Linked DNA regions of Homo sapiens. The protein of the gene in region 1 purifies or fractionates together with the protein of each later gene. This does not show direct contact. Each region holds a gene or a part of one and is shown on either strand. Other genes may lie near its edges. The genes, in order: STAU2 and ADAR.

Region 1 (3,820 bases):
TCTAGGAACTGAAACGGTCCAGTAAAACTGAAGCACTGAGATTATTTCTAGGGCACACATTAAGTCTAAGATGTATAAAGACATCCAAGAGATCAAGGTGGTAAATGCTACATGAGTTTGGAGCTCAGAAAAAAAAGGTCTAGACCAGGTATAAACTTAGAAGTCATTAGCTTAGAGATGGCATGGGATGCACAGGAACTGGAAATTTCTTTGGCAAGGTGAGCAGGACTATATGTCGGAAGGCAGGGGGTCAAGATTACTTTCTTTTTTTGGAACGCATCTCGCTCTGTAGCCCAGGCTGGAGTGCAGTGGTGTGATCTCAGCTCACTGCAACCTCCGTCTGCTGGGTTCAAGCAACTCTTCTGCCTCAGCCTCCCAAGTAGCTGGGACTACAGGTGTGCACCACCATGACTGGCTGATTTTTTTGTATTTTTAGTAAAGATGGGGTTTCACCATGTTGGCCATGCTGGTCTTGATCTCCTGATCTCAGGTGATCTACCTGCCTTCGTCTCCCAAAGTGCTGGGATTACAGGCGTGAGCGACCACGCCTGGCCAAGATTACTTTTGTTTTTTTTTTGAGACAGTCTCACTCTTTTTGCCCAGGGTGGAGTGCAATGGCACGATCTTGGCTCACCGCAACCTCCGCCTCCCGGGTTCAAGTGATTCTCCTGCCTCAGCCTCCCGAGTAGCTGGGATTACAGGCACGCACCACCATGCCTGGCTAATTTTGTATTTTTTAGTAGAGACGGGGTTTCCCCATGTTGGCCAGGCTGGTCTCGGACTCCCGACCTCAGGTGATCTGCCCGCCTTGGCCTCCCAAAGTGCTGGGATTACAGGTGTGAGCCACCGTGCCCAGTCGATTACTTTCTTAATCACAGGGGAAAAGAAAAAAAGTTTAATTACTTCTCTGTTGATTTGCAATCAAAAGAAATAAAAGTATTTTGTTTCTTTCCTTTTTTTTTTTTTTGTTTTTAAGAGACAGGGTCTTACTACGTTACCCAGTCTGGCTCAAACTCCTGGGCTCAAGAGATCCTCCCACCTCACCTCAGAAAGTGCTGGGACTACAGGTTTGAGCCACCCAGCCTGGCCAAAAGTATTTTCTAACACTATAGTTATGATACAATGTTCTATTTGATCGGGAAAGGTAAAATTAAATGTATAAAGTTCTTGGAGAAACGTCAAGAACTAAGAAAAGCACTTCTTTCAGTGAGTCTAAAGTATTAAATGCTGTAGTTTATCAGGGCACTTCCTTCTAGTGTTTTTCAGTGCCCTGGAAAGTGAACTTTAAAAAAAAAAAAAAAACAGATACAACTACTTCACAAGATTTGTCACTAAAAATGCTTTGAGTCTGCAGAACTGCCACCTACTGAAGCTGTATCATGATCATAAGCATTCTGAACACATTAACAAGTCCTAAAGGGATGTGACATCAAGAAGAACAGACAAACCTTCTGCCTTGCACAACCAGAAGTTATCAACTTTCAGAAGATCATTCTAATCCTTAAACAACCTGCCCTACACAGCCTCCAATGATGACTATACAGTAGGTAACTGCTTTAAAAAGTGATGAGTCAGGTTACAGTTATAGAAAAGAAAAGCTGAGTTAAAATGTTCCACAATTTACAGCCAAAGCACCATGTAAGCATGAAAAATGCCTTAACACAAACTCACCTGATTTATTTGAAGCATGTTAAGACAATATTGACCAAACTGCTGTATCCCTCACGGCTCCAAAAACTGGAAAACGAAAATGAAGAAATAAAGTTCAACTTAGCTGATAACCTCAATGACTGGTATTTTAAACACATGCCCTTGATCAAAATCAAATATAAAATGTAATTTATCCAGATCTCCATAGAACTTTCTATGATGATAAAAATGTTCTGTACTTGCACTGTCCAATCTGGAAGTCATTAGCCACATGTGGCTACTGAGCACTTGAAATGTGGCTAGAGCAATCAAGAAAATAATATTTAATTTTCTTTCATGTTCACTTGAATAACTACGTCACTAGTAGCCACCATACTGGACAGTACAGATCTGAACAAAGCTCCTTCTGCTTCTAGACTTCTAAGACAATCCCAACAAAAGTGAAGCTGTTAAAAATAAATCTGAGAGTTTCAGGTTAATATTTAATGTATACTTCCCTTTTTGCAGTCCTGTTTTAAACAGCTTTGTTCCCATCTTCTATACGATAAATTAATCCTAAAGAAGATGCAACACCACAAGTATTCTCTTAGATGGTATGGAAAAGAGCATATAGTACAATTATCTTGCTGAATAGTTTCTTTTTCTCTGTCATTTTGTCTGTTATCATCAGTATAAAAATAGTATGTATATTAAAATTTCAGGCTGGGCGTGGTAATCCCAGCATTTTGGGAGGCCAAGGTGGGTGGATCATTTGAGTTCAGGAGTTCGGGACCAGCCTGGCCAACATGGTGAAAACCCTGCCTCTACCAAAAATACAAAAATTAGCCAGGCATGGTGGCGCGTGCCTGTAATCTCAGCTACTCAGGAGGCTGAGGCAGGAGAATTGCTTGAACCCAGGAGGCAGAGGTTGCAGTGAGCCGAGATTGCGCCATTGCACTCCAGCCTAGGCGACAGAGCGAGACTCCATCTCAAAAAAAAAAAAAAAAAAAATTTTAATTTGAAAACAGATGCCAATGAAGGGCAGGAAAGTCCAAATTACAAATAAATAAATCATGGGATCTTGTAATGAAAAAAAGTTTATATAAAATATAAATTATATACAGACCTCTCCCCTAAAAATTATCTAAAGCAACAACACAATTGTGATACACAGCAAAAGGCCTATATCTAATCACCTGTATAGAAACTGTTATGCTGCTAAATTTTAATATTGAACTTTCCCCTGGAAGCAAACGTTTTGTAAGTACACACATACATACACAAACACACACCCATATTTGGCTACCATTTTTTCAAGATGACAAACTAGAGTCCATTCAAAATGACTTTGAAAACTTTAATATTTTTCTTACAATAGTGTCCTCAGCATCTGCATCAATTTTTATTTATTTTCTAATTACTGTCACATTTCCTATGAGAACGGGATGCTGTATAAAGAGCACACGGCCTGGATATTGGTGAATTTGAGTTTTAGTCAAAGTTCTTCAGATTACCTTCTGAGCCTTGGTTCAAATTACTTTGTGTATCTTTGAGTTCTTCTTTTTCTGTCTTCTTTTTTTTCTTCAATCTTTAAAAAGTAAGCTAAAGTCCTTGTGGTAGGCAGCCTCTAACAAATAGAATATAGCAGAAATAATGAGATACCACTTCCAAGATTAGGTTATAAAAATTCTTAGGTGTCACCTTCTCTCACTCATTTGCTCAGAGGGAGGCAGATGCCAAACTGTGGTGCCCTTTGGAGAGGCCCATATGGCAAAGAACTGAGAAAAGCCTCTGGCCAACAGCCAGCAACAATTGATTTCTTCAGTCCAAGAGCCCCAGGAAACTGAACCCTGCAAGAGCCACATGAATGAGTTCAGAAACAGATCTTCCACCAGTAGAGCTTCCAGATGTGACTGCAACCCCAACTGACAGCTTGACTACCACCTCTTTTATGAGCCACAGGCACCCAGCTAAGCTGCACCCAGATTTCTAACCCACAGAAACTGTAAGATAATGTTTGTTGTCTTAAGTCCTTAAATTCTGGTGCAATGTGCTATGCAACAATAAATAAGACTATCCTGTCCAACTCTATAATTCAATATTCCCATGGTGCTTTAGGTATTAATTAATATTTGGATAGGCAAAAAAATAAAATAAAATCCCTGTTCAACATGAGCAAATGAGTAACATT
Region 2 (3,820 bases), on another chromosome or scaffold:
AAATGTAAATATCCGTAATACTAGGTATGAAAAAAGAGATAAAAATGTAAACACACTGAAATAGGAAACTTTGTTTCACTACTGTAAATGGAAAACCAGTATCACTTGCCACATATTGAAGGTGGCTGTAAAACAGAATATGATAAAATCATGTTATAAAATTCTGACTAGATACTGTTACCTGCAAAGGCTCTGAGCCTGTCCTTACTATAAAGGAAGATTATGAAGTATGAGGAAGGCTTAACGAAATGCTAGCACCAACTTGGACTCTCTTCTTAAGCAGAAATCAGAAGGGACTACCTTTCTCCCCACAAGTCACTGTTACTTCATACACTGTCTGATTTTTAAAGCGCCCAACTCCATTCCCTCATTTACTTCCTATTAGCTCAAGGGGACTTGACCTGGAGAGGTCATTAGGTCAAGGTCGGCCTTAGGCCAGGGACCCAGGTTTTGCTGGGAGTTGTTTTTTTGACTCCTGGCAGGCTTAAGCTAACTCTGGGGTAAGGAATGGATCTTGGGCGCATGAGCTGCGCTGACAATAAAGTGCCCAAGTGGAGCAGGGAGGTGGCTTCTACCGCTCCGGCTGGTAATTTCCAAACACAGAGGGAAGAGCATGGTGGAGCAAAACAGCTTGGAAATGTACCAGACAAGGCATCAAGAATCCTAGCTTTCAACCAGATCCTAATCTACTGGCTGAGAACCCAGCTTTGGATACTCTAACTGCATATAACAGAGGCTTCAGTTTCAAGACTTAGCAGCTCAGGCAGTAAAAGGAATCAACGTTTATGTTCAACCACATGGAGTTTCTCACTGTTCCTTGATGATCCGAAGCAACTAAATGCCTTCACTCTTTTCTTTGTCCATGCTGGCAGGCCCGTGCAGGCCAGTGGGCTTAAGTTCAGAATGAGAGGGACAGTGGCATGAAAAGAAGATGGTGAAGGCGGTCAGGAGGGACAGATTGTGTAGTATCTTTACCTCAGGGATCCAGGAGAATTTCATGACTGCCCCATGTGTTTGAAAAGAATATGAACTCTTACGTGCAAAGTTTTATACTGATATATTTACATATATGATAAAGTTTGTTAATTATGCAACTAGAATCCTTTAGAGCTGTGCTATCCAATATGGTAGCCACTAGCCAAATGGGGCTATTGCCATAAGTGCCTCCTCTCAGCCTCTTTGCCAGCTCTGCGCTTCTCCCACCACAGGATTTAACAGTGTCCTTCGCCTAGAACCCTCAGTCTTTCTCTCTTCATCATCCTTAAAGTCTCAGCTCAGGCAGTACTTCTTGGGGAAGCCCTTCCCCCTCTCCTTCCTAAGTCAAACTGTGCTATAATTGATTCTCGCTGCAACTCCAGCCCTTTGGAATACTTATCAAATATGAGATCTTACATTTCTTTAGGTGACTATTGGTTAATGTTTGGTTCCTGTTCTAAAAAAAATAGAAGATACTCCATAAATAAGTGTTGAGTAAATAAAGTATAAAGATCAGTTAGGAGGCTATTGTGACAGTCTAGATGAGACAGTGGCTTGGATTAGAGTGCTGACGCTGGAGGTGGAAAGAAGAGGAAGGGATTTGGGATAGAAATTCTAAGTATAACCAATAGGACTTAAGGATGAGTTGACGAAGGAGGTAAAGGAGATAGAGGAAAAGATGATCCTCAGGTTTCTGACTTGAGCCACTGGGTAGACAGTGGTATCACTTACTAAGCTGGGAAAGACTTGGGGGAAATGAAGCGAAGGGGGCAAAACCCAAGAGTTCTGCTTTGGACATGTCATATTAGGGATGTTAATCCAAACAGAGGTGACAAGTAAGCAACTAGATGGAGGAATCGGGAGCTCTGAGTGGTCTCCAGCATTTAGATATTAAAGGTCATGGCTGTCGCGGTGGTTCATGCCTGTAATCCCAGCACTTTGGGAGGCTGAGGCGGGTGGATCATCTGAGGTCAGGAGTTGAAGACCAGCCTGGCCAACATGGTGAAACTCTGTCTCTACTAAAAATACAAAAATAGTCAGATGTGGTGGCAGATGCCTGTAATCCCAGCTACTCGAGGAGCTGAGGCAAGAGAATTGTTTGAACCCAGGAGGCGGAGGTTGCAGTGAGCTGAGACTGCGCCACTGCACTCCAGCCTGGGTGACAGAGTGAGACTCCATCTCCAAAAAAAAAAAAAAAAAAAAACAGAAAAGAAGTCATAAAATTAGTTAACGTCACCAGCCACAGTAGACAGAAAGGAAAAAAAGACCCAGCATAATTCACATTAAGAAGCAACTAAAGTATATTATTGTACGAGATAGTTAATAAACGTAGTTACTCAATTAGCATTTCCCCTCTCTATGCAACCTTCCTCAGCTCCCTGGCAGACAGTGGCAGCAGTGTCCTCTGTGTCCCCACAGCACTCTGCATTCACCTCCAATGGCACATTTCAATACTGCTATGGCTATATGTCTGCTACACACTCAGGGGCAGCAATTTTTTGTATCTTCCATCTAGTTCATAGTAAGTTCTTACATTCTCAATGAATGGCTGACTTGAAGTCCTAGAAAGGATTTCACAGAAGATTTCACAGAAGAGAAAGAGGAAATGCACTGAACCTATCATCTGAAGGACTGTGCTTAAAGATAAGGAGGTGCTTATTGAGATGAAGGATATGAATTAGTAGAAGAGCAGCTGGAGGGAGACTGGGCCTCTCCTTTTCCAGATGGCTTAAACAGTGGGCAGATGTGTGTTCTAAATTGGGTCATGTTGGGCAAAGGGCTACTTTTAAAAATTATGTTAAAAGTTCTTACATATCCATGAGAGTAACAATCTGAAAGAAAACTGGAAAAGGACAAGAACAGGTGGTTCACAGAAAAGGAAATGCAAATAACACATAAATATGAATAAATGAAATGCCATTACTTCTGATTTTTTTGTTTTTTTTTTTGAGACGGAGTCTCACTCCATCACCCAGGCTGGAGTGCAGTGGCACAATCTCAGGTCACTGCAACTTCCGCCTCCTGGGTTCAAGTAATTCTCCTGCTCAGCCTCCGGAGTAGCTGGCATACAGGGGCATACCACCATGCTCAGCTATTTTTTGTATTTTTAGTAGAGATGGGGTTTTACCATGTTGGCCAGGCTGGTCTCAAATTACTGAGCTCAAATGATCCACCCACCTCGGCCTCCCAAAGTGCTGGGATTATAGGCGTAAGCCACTGCGCCCGGCTGACATTACTTCTATTAAGGAGAGACAAATTTAAAGTAACAAGATAGCATTTTTATAAGCTTTTTTCCTTAATGACTTTAAAATGGACAAGTTGGATGCCAAACATGTGAAAATTCAAACAGTTAAGAGTGTACAATAAAAGTGTCCCTCCTTCCCCAGAAGCAAACACAGTTGCCAGTTTTTTCGATCCTTCAAGAAAATATTCTAGACATATACAGACAATCTTCACCTCTCCCCTCACTTTACACCTTGCTTTTCCACTTTGTGATAGACCTTAGAGATTAAGAAAACATGCCGGTTGCATGGCAAGAGTGATGCCATCTTGATGCAAAACCACTATGACCACCAATATCTGACTCCCGCATCCCAAAGTGTTGGGTAGCATAAATAATTCCACACAAAGATGTCTACCAAGCCTCCCCACCAGCTAGTGCTCATAAGTTTCACAAGAAAGTATAATGTGTGACCAGCTGCATGTTTAACCAAAAAAGCCTCTATAGAAAGCATACTTTCTGGAGGGTAAGTGCAGGGATCCACCATCTTGCAGCCACCCAAGACATCATTTCTGTTCCTAAGTCCCTATTAAATGTTTACTTCTGAGAAACTGAATTTGTCAG

Evidence for each region.
Region 2: the proteins of STAU2 (region 1) and ADAR purify together in Homo sapiens (affinity purification with mass spectrometry, with the first as the bait; one large-scale study listed by BioGRID). This does not show direct contact.

What each region holds. Positions count from the first base shown.
Region 1 is NC_000008.11:73,736,613-73,740,432, forward strand, and holds part of STAU2 (double-stranded RNA-binding protein Staufen homolog 2), read right to left. Parts: intron 3,257-3,820; 5' UTR 3,144-3,256; intron 1,738-3,143; 5' UTR 1,690-1,737; coding exon of another isoform or gene 1,672-1,689; intron 1-1,671. UniProt on the Homo sapiens protein: RNA-binding protein required for the microtubule-dependent transport of neuronal RNA from the cell body to the dendrite.
Region 2 is NC_000001.11:154,590,978-154,594,797, forward strand, and holds part of ADAR (double-stranded RNA-specific adenosine deaminase), read right to left. Parts: intron 1-3,820. UniProt on the Homo sapiens protein: Catalyzes the hydrolytic deamination of adenosine to inosine in double-stranded RNA (dsRNA) referred to as A-to-I RNA editing.